Linked DNA regions of Homo sapiens: region 2 is linked to region 1. Evidence: fine-mapped expression QTL. Tissue or cell type: whole blood. Region 1 holds a variant in brackets; the other region holds the start of a gene. All regions are shown on one strand. Distances are from middle to middle.

Region 1 (8,189 bases):
TCAATGACAGAGATTGCTGAGGGGCTTGGTTTCCCCCGTAGAGAGAAATGAGCCTTCTGGCAAGGCCAGGTCTCTGCCTCGTTGTGCCTTCCACCTCAGGGTCAGGAAGCTACAGTCGAAAACACATTATCTATGGCTTTGCATTATTTCTCCGAAAGTTTAGTAAAGTTCTTTTTGAAAAGTTTCTACTCTCTCCCAGTGGACACTAAAGGGAAGGGACTTTATCCACAGCCAGGACAAGATAAATCAGCCATACAGCGAATCTAGACACCGGACACAGGAAGCAGTGACTCCTAAGATGGAGCTCTGGAGAAAGCAGAGGGGTAGCAGTTGGGCTGACACTGAATTAAGGATGAGCTGAGCAACACTTCTGGTTCTGCCTTTAACTTTCACAAATCATCTTTTGGGTTTGCTTTTGTCAAGGTAACTGATGTTTAACTGATAAAGTTACAATAAAGAAGCAGAATATCAAATCCCTTGCTGAGGCAAGGGACGTAAGAAGTAGAAGGAGACATAAGTGTTAGGAGGAATATTAATAATAGCATGAAATCCAGTTCCTTTTTGTGATTTCTATCAGCTTAGAACTGCTGACAGTAAAGAAAGCAGCGTACCTCTGAAATGACTTTGCAGATCGAGCTTCTTAATTCATTCTACTACCCCTAATTGCTTTCTCTAACACGGTGATAGGCCCCTACAGGAGTTTTAAATATTTTGTGCTTCAATAGCAAGAAAATGTGCCATGTAGTTTATAGACATTAGTGTGGCTACTTTCTTCTTCACTGTATTTTGAAATTTGAACACAACAGAGTTTTCAGAGTAGTATTAGATCCCCAAGCAAGTCTCTTGTAAGTGAGGTTTTCATTTTCCCCTTCCTGAAGCTTCCTTTCTTTTATTATAAAGGTCAGCATTGAGGCTTTCCCAGTTAACTGATGAAGACATCCAGCAACATGGAACACCTTGGTTATTTAACCCTTGACCCTCTCCAGCAGAAATTCCTGATTAGCTTCAGCCTGGACAGTCTCATCACACCTCCCTGAACACATGTTGCTTATTTGTTATCTGTACCTTGGTTCAAGTTCTCCCTCCTATTTTGAGTGTTGTGTCCTTTCCCTCCCTTCCTTCTATCCAGCTTACTCCCACACTTCAGGGGAAATGACACCTCCTCCATTGTGTCTTACTCACTGGCTCCTACCCACATGTACCTCCTTTTCTGAACTCTTATTCCATGAGTGGCCCTATGTCTTAGCACTTAATCTCCTATAAACCATGCTAATAAAATGGATGTGGTGCTCCTGGCTAAATGTATCCAGTCAGACTTGGCTGTACTTCCTTCTGGCCAGAGGAATGAAATGCCTTGTGGTAACAATTCATCTTACAGAATACAGTTTTCTGTTATTTAACTCACAGCAGACTGGGATTCTAGAGGGCAGCAACTCTGGCTCATTCTTCTCTGTAGCCTCCTTGGTATCCAGCACAGGCTGGATACTCACCTAGAAGCAGTCATTGAATTCATTTGGAATCTAAGAAACCTCGACATAGTCTAAACAGCTTTAGTGCAATTGAATGAACATGTAGAAAGTAAGTGAAGTCACTGTGATCCACAGCGTGGTCAGGACTTAATTCTGGAATAGGAGGTTTCACGGATAGACCACCATGGTGTTCAAACAACATGGGTGTATTGGTGGCAACCATGTCTCAGCTGGGGATGGCAAAGTGGGTAGAGAGAGATGAAGCCTGGTGAGGGTAGAAATGTGGTTGCTGGCTGCCTACTCACTTGGGTTGTACCTTCACAAGAACTAGTGCTTAGGAAACTCCTGAACAGGGATAATAAGTCTGTTTGTCTTGGATGCCAACACGAATTGATTTATGTTGACTGCCTGAAGCACTCTGTTGAAAAGAATTGAAAAATACCATATGGGATCAGTGGAACAGAACGCCATAATTAACCTGCAATGTGGCATTGGCATGTCTATGTGCTGACCCTGACCTTGATGCTATGAAGTAATAGAAAAATCCAAGACGGGTCTCTGCCCACGGAGATTTACAATCCGACTGGGGAAATAATATATTCATCATATAATTAGTGAACAAAATATTAGAGTGCTAAATTGTGGAACAGAGATGATGTTAAAGTGACATGTAAAATGTAAAATTTATGGCAGAATAATCAAATAAATGCAAGGGGAAGAGTAGATGAATGTGGGCTGAAAAGGTCAGGAAAAATTTGTGTAGGAAAAAGGCCTAAGCTGAGCCCTTCTCAGAGGAATGAGGTTGAGGGAGGGATGGGTGAAGGGAGAGAAATAATGATACTCCCATTGAGGAACTGTGTAGGGAGCAATAGGAAAGAGTGCCAGTAGGAAGGGATATGATTTGACAAGAGACAGGGTGAGAGGACTTAGCTTCTTTTAATAACTGGATGTGAACCCCATTGCCCTGATGTCCCAGCTTTACCCAAGCAGGAGAGAAGGGTAGGAACAGAGTCCCTTGTCCTTTGCCCTTGCCAAAGGTGCTGTGCTGCCTGTGGTGGCTCCATCCATGAAGAGGTGGAGCCACAAGGAAGGGCCCAGATCCCCAGAGAGAATGTGTGGTTGCTCTTGTGTATCTGGGTGAGCCCAAGGTAGAACATTTCTCTGAGAGGGGCCTGGACAGAAAAACCCACTAGAAGTGGGTAGGAGATGATTAAGCAAAAGAGTGTTCCTTCTGCAGCCTGGAAGGAGATGAAGCCCCTTCAGAGAAGGACATCAGTAATTGGACACCCAGAGGGCATCATACTCAACATTCAGGGCTTATCATTTGTGTATATATACATAAAATTGTATTTTTATTTTCACAGATTGGACACAATGAGGATGCCAATAAGCATATATGATCTATGTTTTCATAGGGAAAGTTTGAGATGTAGAGAGTTTAAATGCTTTATGGATTACAGGGTTTGTTATAGAAGAGTCCTCAAATACAGGCATGAGTTCATTACACAATAAAATATGCACTGAATCTTGTCTCTCCACTTTTTATCAACAGACAGGAAGTTTCCTTAGTAGTTAAAAGCCTGTTCTCTGAAGCCAGACTGTCTGGGTTTGAATCCTGTTTCTATCACTGCAAGATATCTAACCACACCATGCCTCAGTTCCTCATCTGTGGAATGTAGTGTCTACATCACAGGGGTGCTGTAAGGCTTAAAATGGAAAATGCTCAGAAAAGAACTTCACACATTGTAAGTACTAGAGTGTTAGCTATTATTTGTGACTGGAGGAAGTAAAGGAAGAAAAGAGAGGGCATGAATATATGTCTTCATATTGCATCTTTGAAACTAACTGTTCCTGTTTTGGAAACTAAGTCATTAAATAGTCCAGAAATAGTCTACAACCTGAAGATTCTCTAACTGAACACATTGTGCTATTTATTTCCAAGATAGGTGCAGAGTTCAGGGATAGAAAAGAGAAAGATCTTTTGATAACATTCACTGGTAAAGTGAGAACTCCCTAATAGCCAGAAAATAAATGGATAAAATGCTACATGTCTCAAAATTTGAAAATGTGGATTTTTTTGGTCCCAATTTTTCACTTTCCCATGGATGCTAAAGGCAATAGACCTGCTCCTAGCAAAAACTACCATGAGGAGCTAATTTTATTTTAAATTAATTTTCATAACAGTGTATTCTTCAGGAAAGTAGAAACCATATAGTTCATTGCTTAGTTCAATTACCTAATATGACACAAGTCCTGCATAGAAGACAGTCATTTGTCCACAAAAAGGGATCTTAAAAATCCATTATAAATTTGACAGAAAAAAAAGAACAAATTTCTTTAAGACTTACATGAGGAAATATTCTAGCTGGGTAGAATTTCTCTTGTCGAAAACAAAGACAAATTGGAAAGGCTGCCATTTAAGGATAAATCATTAAGAGGCTTTCAAGATGATTACCATATATATATATTTTTTGAGATGGAGTTTTACTTTTGTCGCCCAGCTGGTGTGTAATGGAGCTTTCTCAGCTCACTGCAGCCTCCACCTCCTGGGTTGAAGCGATTCTCCTGCCTCAGCTTCCTGAGTAGCTGGAAGTACAGGCGCCTGCCACCACGCCCAGCTAATTTTTGTATTTTTAGTAGAGGTGGTGTTTTACCATGTTGGTCAGGCTGGTCTTGAACTCCTGACCTCAGGTGATCCACCCGCCTTGGCCTCCCAAAGGGCTGGGATTATAGGCGTGAGCCACCGTGCCC[G/A]GCAGCCATATTTCTAAATTGATTATCTACCTCTGAACAGATGGATTTATGTTATGTAATATTTTAATATAACCTTTAATTAAATTATCCCTAGCAGGTGATATTTTTAAATAAAGTTAATTAGTATTTTAGCAATTCAATCATGTACAACTTGTTTTTACCAATGTTATTTCCTAGTTTTCTTGAGGAGCAACAGGAAAAGGAACCCTAAACAATTGAAAGGGTAAGCTCAAGGTGTGACGCTGATTTACATTCATGAAAATGAGTTGAAAAATGTGGTACCTTTGGGTCTTGTGCTGGGCTTAGCTGAACCCCAGGACACTGACAAACAGAGTTGCTGTCTAGTTGTTTCTAACTATACTCAGCCTTTGCCAAGTTTTGGCCAGGCTAATGGAATCTTGTGGACACACAGGGTACAACATGTAGGAATCTCGGGGCCCCTTTTTCTTTTGTGTAGACACTTTCAAAGGTAGCCACAGCACACAGCAGGACTGAGACAGCTTGGAGTCTTGCTTTGTTCCCAGCAGAGGGACTTTCCTTTGGTAACGCTCCCAGGTCAGAGCTTAACTCTTCACCAACTGGAAAGCTGGTTGTGTTTCTTCTTTTGTTTGCTTTTTTTCTTCTTCTTTCATTCCCACTCCTTACCCCAAACATATTCCTGAGGAAATTATGATCCTTCAGGTTGTTTTACAAAGTTAACCTCTCAGGAGACTCTGCAAAACATGCAAAAGGGATATCATACTTTTTTGCTTAATTTTCACCTTTAGAATTTAAAACCGATGAACTGTAAATCCTTTTAGGGGAAAATTTAAATAACACTTATTTTATGTATATTTGGAAGCACAGGGTAATTTTTTAAGGAAGAAGGGGAAAAATTAATGAAGGTGTAAGAGGGAATCACAAAGACAAATTAAAAAGTTTTTAAGTATACCATAGTTAAGCAGCATGCCTGATTCCACATATGTGGTTTATATGTGCACATTGGGTCAGATGATGTCATTCAATCTCAAAAGCTGCATAAAATAGAAGCCTGATGTACCCTATTTATCCAATCAGAAAGTACATATCTTTCTCACATTCTATTGGGTAATGACATTGCACTGTATTTAAAAGAGACTTTAGGCCAGGCGCAGTGGCTCACGTCTGTAATCCCAGCACTCTGGGAGGCCGAGGTGGGCGGATCACTTGAGGTCAGGAGTTTGAGACCAGACTGGCCAACATGGTGAAACCTCATCTCAACTAAAATTACAAAAATTAGCTAGGTGCAGTAGTGGGCGCCTGTAATCCCAGCTACTTGGTAGGCTGAGACAGGAGAATCCCTTGAACCCAGGAGGCAGAGGTTACAATGAGCTGAGATCATGCCACTACACTCCAGCCTGGGTGACAGAGCGAGACTCTGTCTCAAAATTAATAAAAATAAAAAAATAAAAATAAATAAAAGAGACTTTAGAGGACCAATGATTTTAGACAACCAATAAAGGATTAGTCATGCTGGTTGCTTTGCTGATCAGTTCTTCTTAGTCAAAATGGTCAAATAAGTGTAAATGTGGCTTTGTGTAATGCATCTTCCTTCCCTGGAAACAGTCATTATAAGAATGCTCAAGATCCTGCCACAGCTATCTAACCAGGGTTTATGCACAAGGCACAGAGTTTGGCTCTAAAGAGCATGGTGCGTGCATGACTTTGGTGACTCACAGTCGGGGGTAGATCTAATGGATGAATGTAAGGATGGGCAATTTAAGCCATTGTGCCAACATGGCATATGGAATGATTCTGAGAGAGTGTGATAGGGCCAACCCAAGGCAGAGCTCTAGCCGAGAGGGTGTGTTTGTCTTTAGAGCCCCGACTTTCTTGATGCTGTCTTCTGTATCATCTGGCTATCAACTTAACCCTGCATGTAATTAGCCTGTGATAATGGAGTCAGAAGATAAATGGCTTAAAAGGGTCTTGGCACAGTTTATTTCATCGTAAAGGAGAACACCTGACAGTGGGCAGAATCTTACCCCCTTCATGCGAGGAAGAAAAATCAACCATTGGCAATCCAAAAATGTCTGATTGTGCACTGCTAGGTGTGTGTTCCTGTGGGAGTTACCTGGGGGTTACAGAAAAGTACAAGGTACAGCTCTGCCCTCCTGGAACTTACAACTTAGGTGTGGACAAAAACACCACATTGAAGCTGTAACACTTAGTACAGAGCCACATGAGGGAAATGTAAACTAAATAGCACAGGCCATAAGTGCCAAAGGAGTGGTGACGAAATGATGGTTTCTCACAGCTGCTTAACGGGATGAGATCAAAATAGGGATCAACTGATTATCATCGCAGGAGGAAAAAAAAACCGAAACCATAATTCAAACATTTCATGGACACTAGAGAAAAAAATATAAAGAACTATGGGGAGTGTAATAATTGTCTATTTTGTCAATCTTTCAATAGGATTCTTTTTTTTTTCTTTTAAAATAGAAATGTTTTAACTACCTTGACAGACTAAACTTACATGGGCATTTGAACATGGAGGAAAAGAAGTAAGAGTGTTTGGGGTTAAAACATCAATATGAAATGTATTACAAAAAGAAGATTCTTTTATGAAAGGCTTCTAAAGTTGTCTTACATTTCTTAAATCAATCTGTAGCACATAATCAGTAAAACCGTGTCATTTAAACAGAAGATCATAACTTAGAAACTCACCCTTATGCATCTGTATCCTATTATGGGCTGTAACTTAACACATGAGTTTCAGAAGTTGTTAAAATTGAGTTCAGACTAACAAATCTTAACTGTTAAAAACAACAGCAACCACCACCAAAGACCTCTGGTGAGATGGGAGAGCAGTCAATGAAGAGGTCCCAGATTTGATCTCACAGGATAGGTGTCTATCATATTTATTTTGATCTGTTAAATCTTACTTTTCTATGAGAAATAAATGTACTAGGACAGATAAAGCCATAAAGTGATCAAGAAGCTACCTATTTTTTCCAGTTTGAAAACCTGTCTTCTAGGGTTGAGACTTTTATACATTTAACTTTAAACTCTGTCAAATGTATATTTACTGAAAAAAAAAAAGAACCAGCTCTTATGCCATTGATAGCTGTACTAAAATTTATATTTCTTCCTTAGTATAAATTCAAATAAAAATAATTAGGCCCTATGATAAATAAAGTAAAATTAGCATTTGAATAGGCTTCAGTCAAACAGACATCCATAGTTTAGATGCTAAAATTAGCAGAGTTCAAATTACTGTAATTAAGATGCACTCATTATTTTAAAATAAGCTAGCAAGCACTATAGGGTTTATTTTTGTTTGGCTTTTTTTTGTGGTTTTAAACTGTATTTTTTCAGGGGTGGTGGAATGCAATGCAATATGTATAGGGATTTTACTGCACAAGAATCTTCAGCCTTTACATCCTACTCCATTCCTTTCTGTGAAATGTGAAAACTATAAATTTATTGATTTCACATAACTGTACTAAAAAGCATGGGGTGGATAAAGTACTTGACTCCTGAGGATTCTTGCTCTCTCATGCTGCATATAGCTAGATTCATGATTACTAAGATGTTTTTAATAGCCCTGTAGTCTGGTCCAGTTTTTCCAAAGGGCAAAAAACGTACTCTTTGAAGTAAAGTATTCACCTATCTGATATAAATAAAACCTTTCATGCAGAAAAATGTTCTCCCAAATGGAAGAGTTAATGCACCTCAAATATGTGAGAAATTTGCTTCCAATTTTTCAACGCTTAGTAAAGGATCCATCTTACTTTTTCATTATAAAATTTGGGAAAAAATCTCAGTGAAATCTTACATGTCACTTCATAAGTCAATGCTAGAAACCAACTCATTCTCATGGCTACAGTGACAATTAAGATACTTTTTAAACAATCTTTTTGAGAAAGTTTGCCCTGATTTTGGCCTTCAGTCAGTGAAAGTGGTTTCTCCTCATAGGCATGTTTGACATTTACAAATCTTGCATCT
Region 2 (8,189 bases), 60 kb before region 1:
TTCTGGGCTCAAGCAATCCTCGCACCTCAGCTTCCTGAGTAGCTGGGACTACAGGTGTGCTCCACCACATCTAGCTAACTTATTTTTATATTTTGTAGAGACAGGGTCTCCCTATGTTGCCCAGGCTGGTCTCAAACTCCTGGGCTCAAGTAATGCCCCTGCCTTGGCCTCCCAAAGTGCTGGGATGACAAGCGTGAGCCACTACTTCTGGCCTTCATTGCTTAACCATAACTATCTCAAGCATATTTCAGGTACAATTCTCTACCCTTCCTTACCCTTCCTCTTTCTCCAGGATCAAGTCTGAGTCTCTAACATTGCCTCTTCAGCCTCATTAACTTGACAAAGTTCTGTTGGTTTTGTTAATTCTAGAAGCTTCCCTCTCTCCAAGCAAAGTCCATGTTTTCAGCCTCTTACCTATTCTGCAAATCAGCATATATCTCCAGGGAAAAAACAGCCCAACAACAATTCACCTCTCCATGATCTACTGTCTCTTCTGCACCAACCCCCTCCCCACTCTTGGGCTCTCTAGCTTCAGCAACTCTCCCAAGCCTCTAAAACACACATACACATAATTTTTTAAACTCAGTTTTCTAGTTGTTCTCAGGGCTGATCTGTGGGAAACAACTCTATTATACCCAGAAGTAGAAGTCTGACAATAGCTTTGTTAAATCAAGCTTAGCCTAAAGCTGCCTCCTTACATATTTTAAGTTTGGCTTAAAGGTTTCTCTGAACATCATGAATTATAACCTGATAGAAGAAAAACTTCAGCCGAATTACATTTGAAAGAGTTTAATTGAAAAATGAACGATTCAAGAATCAGGCAGCCTCCCAAGACAGAGTAGGCTCAGAGATTCCAGCACAGCCACGTGCTGAAAGAAGATTTATGGACAAGTGGGGTACAGAAAACGGAAGCGAGGTACAGAAACAGCTGGATTGGTAAAAGCTCAGCATTTGCTTTATTTGAACATGGTTCGAACAGTTGGCTACATTTGATTCATCAAAACTTAGTAATTGGCACAAGTGTAGACTATGGCCTGTTTACACCTCCACTTGTCATAGTTCATGATGTACAGAGAAACCTTTAGGCCGAACTTAAAATATGTAAGGAGGCAGCTTTAGGCTAAACTTGATTTAACAAACCTAAATGGAATTGTAAACAGACTGTAACCTGCTCTTGTGCCAATCACCAAGTTTTGGCCAATCAAGCGTGGCCAACTGTTTGAACCGTGTTCAAATAAGACAAACGCCAAGTTGTGACTAATCCAGCTGTTTCTGTGCCTCGCTTCCATTTCTGTACGTCACTTTCCCTTTTCTGTCCATAAATCTTCTTTCACCACGTGGCTGTGCTGGAGTCTCTGAGTCTACTCTGGCTCAGGAGGCTGCCTGATTCGCGAATCATTCTTTGCTCAATTAAACTCTTTCAAATTTAATTGGCTAGAGTTTTTTTTTTTAGCAGCTTTTAAAATATTTTACTAGATTGTATTTATGGTTAACAGTATCTTGCACTACAATTTATATTTAGATAATCATTCATTTTAAAATTATTTATTGAGCACCTACTATGTGTTAGGTATTAGGTACAGAGCAATGAATACAGCAAGCACAGTTCCTCACCTCGTGGACCTGACACTGTAGTGTGAGAGATAATAAGCAAATGATATAAGGCCATGCAGTAGTTAAATGCTATGAAGAAACATAAAATCTGGTACAGGGACAGAGAGTAGGGAGGGAGCTCTTGTTATAAAGGGTGGCCAGGAAAGACCAAGTTGTGTAGCAGAGGCCTGAAGGAAGCCAGGGACCAAGCCATATGAATTTTCTCAGATAGGTGTATTCTAGTTATAGAGAACAGCAACTGGAACGGTCCTGAGAAGGGAACATTCCTGGAACATTCAAGAACTAGCCAAGAGATCAGCAAGTCTATAGTAAAAAGAAACATAGTAGATAGTCATCTAGTGTTTTCTTCTCTTCCTTCCTATTATCTCTCATACCATGTCATGTTACTTTTCTAAAGGATCTCAATGGGGAAGAGAACATCATTGTCTTTAAGATTCAATTTTTTGTGTATTGAAAGTCTTCATGGTCATTCTTTTGAGATCATGACCTACTACAACGTCCCCAGGCCTGCATCCTCCACAGGTGAGGTTTCTTTGCTTGGCTTCAGCAGCCTTTCAGACAGCTGCTCATGCATTATGTATTTATAGAGGACTGACCACGTCCAGGCACGATTTGCTGAGCTAGGTTTACAGAACCAGGCTGCTTGTATTAGAATTGAAATGCTTAGCATTTTCAGGAGTCACTTTTTTCCCCCTGTAGTGCATAAATACGGTATATCTTTATACTACCAGTTTCCCATTTAAAAAGTATTATTATTGTTATTAAGTATTAACCATTTGTCTAGTATCATGGAGTAGAAAAGAGGCACAAAAGAAGTTTGTATTGTGCCTGTGGGAGTTTCACCTCAAAGCGGGAATCCCAACTTGAGCCAAAGTTAAGTTTGCACCGACATTCAGTCACCATCTGGGGGATTTGGGAGGGAAAACGAGTGTCTTCTGTAGTGGAAAAGGCATGTTAGTATGGAGCTTTGGTCCAAAGTCAACAGATCAGTGTTAAAGAGGGAGAAGTTTAATACTCAGCCCTTGTGGACTCATGTCCTTGGGAGAAAGACTTCAAAAAACATTCCGTAAAAACCAGAGAAGCTGTTTCCTGGATATCTGCTAAGGCAGCTAGAGCTTAGGTCAGCACAGCTTTGCAGCCTGAGTGTCAGACAGCAGCTCTGGGGCTACTGCCTGAACAGGAAAGTGGGCAAACCTCATCCTGAATTGAGAAGATGTGGGAGTAGACCTCATCCCTTGATGGTCTTAGTTTCCTGGCAATGGCAGGAGCAGCTGCGATTTTGGCAGGCTTGGCCACCAGTGGTGGCATTTATACAGACAGGAGGCAGGGAAATACCGGGTAGAAGAGGGAGGTTCCCTCCCAAAGGCCCCACCCTCAAGCCTGGAAACCCATGACTTTAAATGGGAATAGGCATTCTTGTTTTTGCACCCAAATGTTGCCTTTTGGCCCACCATGTCCACCCCCCATCTTGTACCAATATAAACCCCAAATTGCAGGCTCCATGAGCAGAAAAGCAGACGAATAGAAGAGCAGAGGAACAGAAGAATAGCAGTGTGGCCGAGCAGCGTGGTAGAGAAAGAGGGAAGAGAAGCAGCATCTGAATGTTGAGAGGAGTTTGGCTGGGGACAGTCGGAGAGGAGATTGGCCGCAGGACGACCCAACTCCAGGGGAGGAACATCTTCCTACTCCATTCGCTTCCCCACTCCCCAGCCATTCCACTGAGAGCCACCTCCATCTGGCAATAAAATCTCTTGCATTCACTATCCTTCAATTTGCCTGTGTGACCTGATTCTTCCTGGATGCTGGACAAGAACCCAGCATCCAGGTACCAAGAGGGCACTGGGCTGGATAACACTTGAGCTGTCTGTGGACGGCAGAGCTAAAAGAGCACTGTAACATGCCCACTGGGGCTTTGGGAGTTGCAGGCACCCACCCTGGATGCTACTACCATGGGGCTGGAGCCCAAAAGTGTTTGCCCCGCCTCCTGCACCTGCCCGTCTGCATGCTCCCCCTCCAGTAAGGGGTTTGAGTGCACAGAGGCTGAACAGATGAGCCACACCCCTGTCACACATCCTGTGAAGGGGGTTAGGAAACTCTCCCATTTCATCTTGACCATCTTTGAGGGACTATTGATGCTTTTGGTATCAGCAGCCACAGAATTCATCAGACACAGCACAAAAGAGCAGGAGAAGAGATAATGGCAGATGCCAGAAGGTAAGAAGGAATTCGCCTGTGAGCAAGTGTGAGCTGTGCCCTGGGGGTATCTTAAGTGCGGGAGAAATTCGAGAGAGTTGGAACTTCTAGAAGTGGGAAGTGAAGGACAGAGCCAGAGAATGATACTGTTGTGGTCATTGTGATATTATTTTTATCCCCAAGATGTGGTATCTGGAGTGAGGTACAGAATATAAAGCCTAACCCTAGGCGGGCGCGCGTGGCTCACGCCTGTAATCCCAGCACTTTGGGAGGCTGAGGTGGGCGGATCACGAGGTCAGGAGATGGAGACCATCCTGGCTAACACGGTGAAACCCCGTCTCTACTGAAAATACAAAAAATGCCCCGGGCGTGGTGGCGGGCGCCTGTAGTCCCAGCTACTCCGGAGGCTGAGGCAGGAGAATGGCGTGAACCCCGGAGGCGGAGCTTGCAGTGAGCCGAGACCGAGCCACTGCACTCCAGCCTGGGTGACAGAGCAAGACTCTGTCTCAAAAAAAAAAAAAGAAAAAAGCCTAATCCTACATATACGACTAAGGAGATAGAGTATCTTGAATTTAGACAAGGCGATTAAGTCTCTATCATGGACTGAATGTTTGTGTCCCCTCAAAATCCATATGTTGAAGCCCTACACTCAATGTTATGCTATGAGGAGGTAGGCCTTTTGAGGGGTAAATTAGATTGAGCTGAGGGCATGAGCATGGAGCTTCCATGGTGGGATTACTTGCCCTTATAAGAAGAGCAAGAGACGCCGGAGCTTCCTCTCTCCACCTAGAAGGTGACCATTTGCAAGCCAGGAAGAGAGCCCTCACTAAAACCCAAATCTACTGGCACCTTCATCTTAGACTTCCCCACCTCCAGAACTTTGAGAAAATAAATTTCTGTTGTTTAAGCCACTCAGCCTAACCAGTACATGACCAATGATCTTCCTCTAGTTTAGCAGCAAATATTAAATATTTTCATTCACCTATTCATTTATTTCATTCAACCAGTATTTCTGAAACACCTATCCTGTGCTGTGAAGTACTGATAATGGATTAGGTACTGAGCTAGGAGATGGAGATTTTTGTTTTCATGGGCTCCCATTTTGTAGAGCAGAGATGCATGAGCCAGCACCCCTGAAATATTTGTTATTTCCTGAAGCTCCATGCTGTCTTCCAACTCCATGTCTTTGCACAGTTGTTCCCATTGGTACACTTTTCTTAACCTGCCCCACCCAACAGTCTATCTTGAAAGTTCCTGTTTATCTTTCAAGACTCGGCTCAGGTATTACTTCCTTCCCTAATTCTTCCTAGACATGCCTTTTCTGCGTTTATATTGAAAAACTAAGCCTTAGAAAATTTAAACAACTTACCCAAGGTTATATAACCATTAAGTTTAAGAGCAGGAATGCAATCCCAGGTAAGTATGGCTTTACCTTGGCTCCTGTGTAGACTAACATAACACGGAGTTATATAATCGAGAGAACACACTGGGCTGGGAGCCAAATGCCAGATCTATTTCATGTCATCTATGTGACATTGGGTAAGTCATGTAAAATTCTCAAGCCTCAGTTTTTTTAAATCTAAAAAACAGGGATGAGAAAGTTATCTCACAGGATAGTTGTGAGAATTAAAATATGACATTTAATTAGAAATCATGTAGCAAAGTGCTTAGCTCAATGAATATTTATTAGGAAAAGATATTTTAGTCTTCTTAGGCCTGATCATATAGGCCCATGAAGCTCTTGTGTTTGTGTAAAACACTTTCTTTCTCTTGTGTGCGTGCTTCAAATGCTCACTCGTTAGTCAACAGCAGCTCCTGGGTAATTGTCTTGAGGATCTGAGGTTAGATCAGTAGCTTTCTAGCTAAAAATGTCTCCCGGAGGAGCAGAAGCATATTTCCATATCGGCTTCTAAGTCTCCTATGTTTTTGATTACAGCTGTGTGAAATGAATGGAAAAAGACTGAAATGATTAAGTAACTCTGCTGCTCTCCATTGGTGATGGGGAGTGAATTTGACAGGAGACGAGCAGACAAAGTCCTAGGATTCCAAAGAATTTTAATGGGCAACTGAATGTTAATAATTGTCAGAGCAAGACTCAGATGATCACATCAAATCCTCACAGGCATCTTATGTTATTTCCTCTACATCTTACACAAGTGGGAGACAACTAATAACATGGCCCGTGTACCATGATGCAGCCCAGAACTATGAATTTGACGAGGACATGGTTGATGATATTCCTTCTCTAAATACGATCCTCAGACCAGAAGCATCAGTGTCACTTGGGAAGTTGTTAGAAATACATTTTAAGGGCCCCACTCCAGACCTACTGCACCACAGGCTATGTTTCTAAAAGATCCCCAGGTGATTCTCAGCTTTATTAAAGTCAAAAAAGTACTGAATTAACCATTGATGACAAAGCATTTGTGCTCAGATCTACACAATGGCAATAGACAGTTTTAACTTCCTTGCTGTGTGTCTCTGGGCAAACTACTTAACCTCTCTGACTCTATTTTCTCATTTATAAACTAGAGATAATAGTAGTTCCTACCTCACAGGGTTTTTCAAAGTAAGTGTGCCATAAATAAATGTAAAGCCCTTAGGATAGTACTTGCTGCATAGGAAGACAGCAAAATATTCTTGTTTTACAAGTGATAATAATAGTAATAATAGATCTTAAAAGACTCATCCAAGTCACACAGTTAAAGTAGAAACAGAAAATTATAAGCCTCAAAATAATTGAAGACAGAGGCCACCAATTTTGGTTCCTGTCAATGAAGAACTTCGAAGGAGGGGAAATATTGATACAGTGGCTTTGAGTAGATCATCTCTGGGGCAGCCATGACTGACATCTTATCAGGTGGATCAGAAAAGGTCAACAAATATCTGACATACCTATTGCATACCAAAATTTAAGTTAAATTATTATTTCTTCTATCTCTTATCATCATAAACCTGAGTTTTTGTCCAAGTCTGTTTGCTAGGAAAGGCTGGCAGACTCCCAGTAAAATGGAAAGGTCTGTATTAATAATTCTAGTGACTGTTACCTTATAACTTTGGGATTAGAATAAGTTTCTGATAACAACATTTACAAGAATATTTGCCATAGATAACTCTATTTGTTCGCCTATGTTTATGAGTGGAATTTGATTTTATGCTCAAAAACTATTGATGACAATCTACTATTACAACTGTTGATGACAATCTACTATTGCATCTCTGATTTGGCTGTATACAACTGGACAAGTGTAAAATGACTCTGCAGATATCTTTAAAATTAGGAATCCAGATAAAAGCATATGCGGGTGAGGTTTTTTTGGTAAAATGTATTTTACAAGTAAAAGAAATTAAACAATTTAAAATGTACATTGTGGAATATAAATTTGTCACAATTAACAAGTGGTAGAGTGACTATGTCACAATTTAGTTGGGCAGAAGGGCAGGGGCATACCAAGGCTATGTAAAACGATTCACATTAGAACTTCTAATTGTGTGGAATTAAGAAAATTTGGCTAGGTGGAGTGGCTCATGCCCATAATCCCAGCACTTTAGAAGGCCGAGGTGGGTGGATCCCTTGAGCCCAGGAATTTGAGAACAGCCTGAGCAACATGGTGAAACCTTGTCTCTACAAAAAGTTAGCCAGGTGTTGTGGTGCATGCCTGTAGTTCCAGCTACTCAGGAGGCTGAGGTGGGAGGATTAACTAAGCCCGGGAGGCAGAGGTTGTAGTAAGCCGAAATTGCATCACTGCACTCCAGCCTGGGCCACAGAGTAAGATCCTGTCTCACAAAAAAAAAAAAATAAAATAAAATAATGAAGTAAAAGAAAAAGAAAAAATTTAAGTAGACTATGATGAAAGATAGCAAGCATTTATATTATATCATTCAATTAGAGCACCGTCTGAGTTAATGTTTTATGAGATTGCAGTTTTCAACTGTAGAGGATTACTTGATCATATTTGCTGTTTAACTTTCCTCCCTCATTAATCTATGGTTAACTGAAGTAGATTATTTGTTTTCAATTTGATCTAAATATGTCTTTTATAATCATTTCCATCTTTATAAACATAATTAATTCCTTCAAGTGTCCAGGTGGTAAATTCTCTCCTACATCTACTTCTATATATAGAGAGAGAGAGGGAGAGAGCTGGCAAGGAAAGAAAAGAGACAGTAATATATTGCTTAATGAAGGGGAGAATTCTGAGATTTTGTCATTTTGCAAACATCGTAGAGTGGACTTACACAAACCTAGGTGGTATAGCATATTGTCCCTAGGCTACAAACCTGTACAGCATGCTGTACTGAATACTATAGGCAATTGTAACACAATGGTTGGTATTTCTATATGTAAACATAGAAATGGTACAGTAAAAATATGGCGTAAA

Evidence for each region. PIP is the estimated chance that this variant, and not a neighbour inherited with it, causes the effect.
Region 2: it holds the start of LIX1-AS1, and the variant in region 1 is fine-mapped to the expression of LIX1-AS1 in whole blood (TOPMed, PIP 0.95).

Annotation. Positions count from the first base shown.
Region 1 is chr5:97,130,196-97,138,384 of GRCh38, forward strand. All of the region lies in intron 1 of LIX1 (limb and CNS expressed 1), which reads right to left. Among named protein-coding and RNA genes, the nearest start is that of LIX1, 8.3 kb to the right of the region's middle. The variant G/A (reference allele first, on the strand shown) is at 4,221.
Region 2 is chr5:97,070,011-97,078,199 of GRCh38, forward strand. LIX1-AS1 (LIX1 and RIOK2 antisense RNA 1) reads left to right here and starts at 3,715. Exons shown (of 8, transcript NR_187470.1): 1 at 3,715-3,828.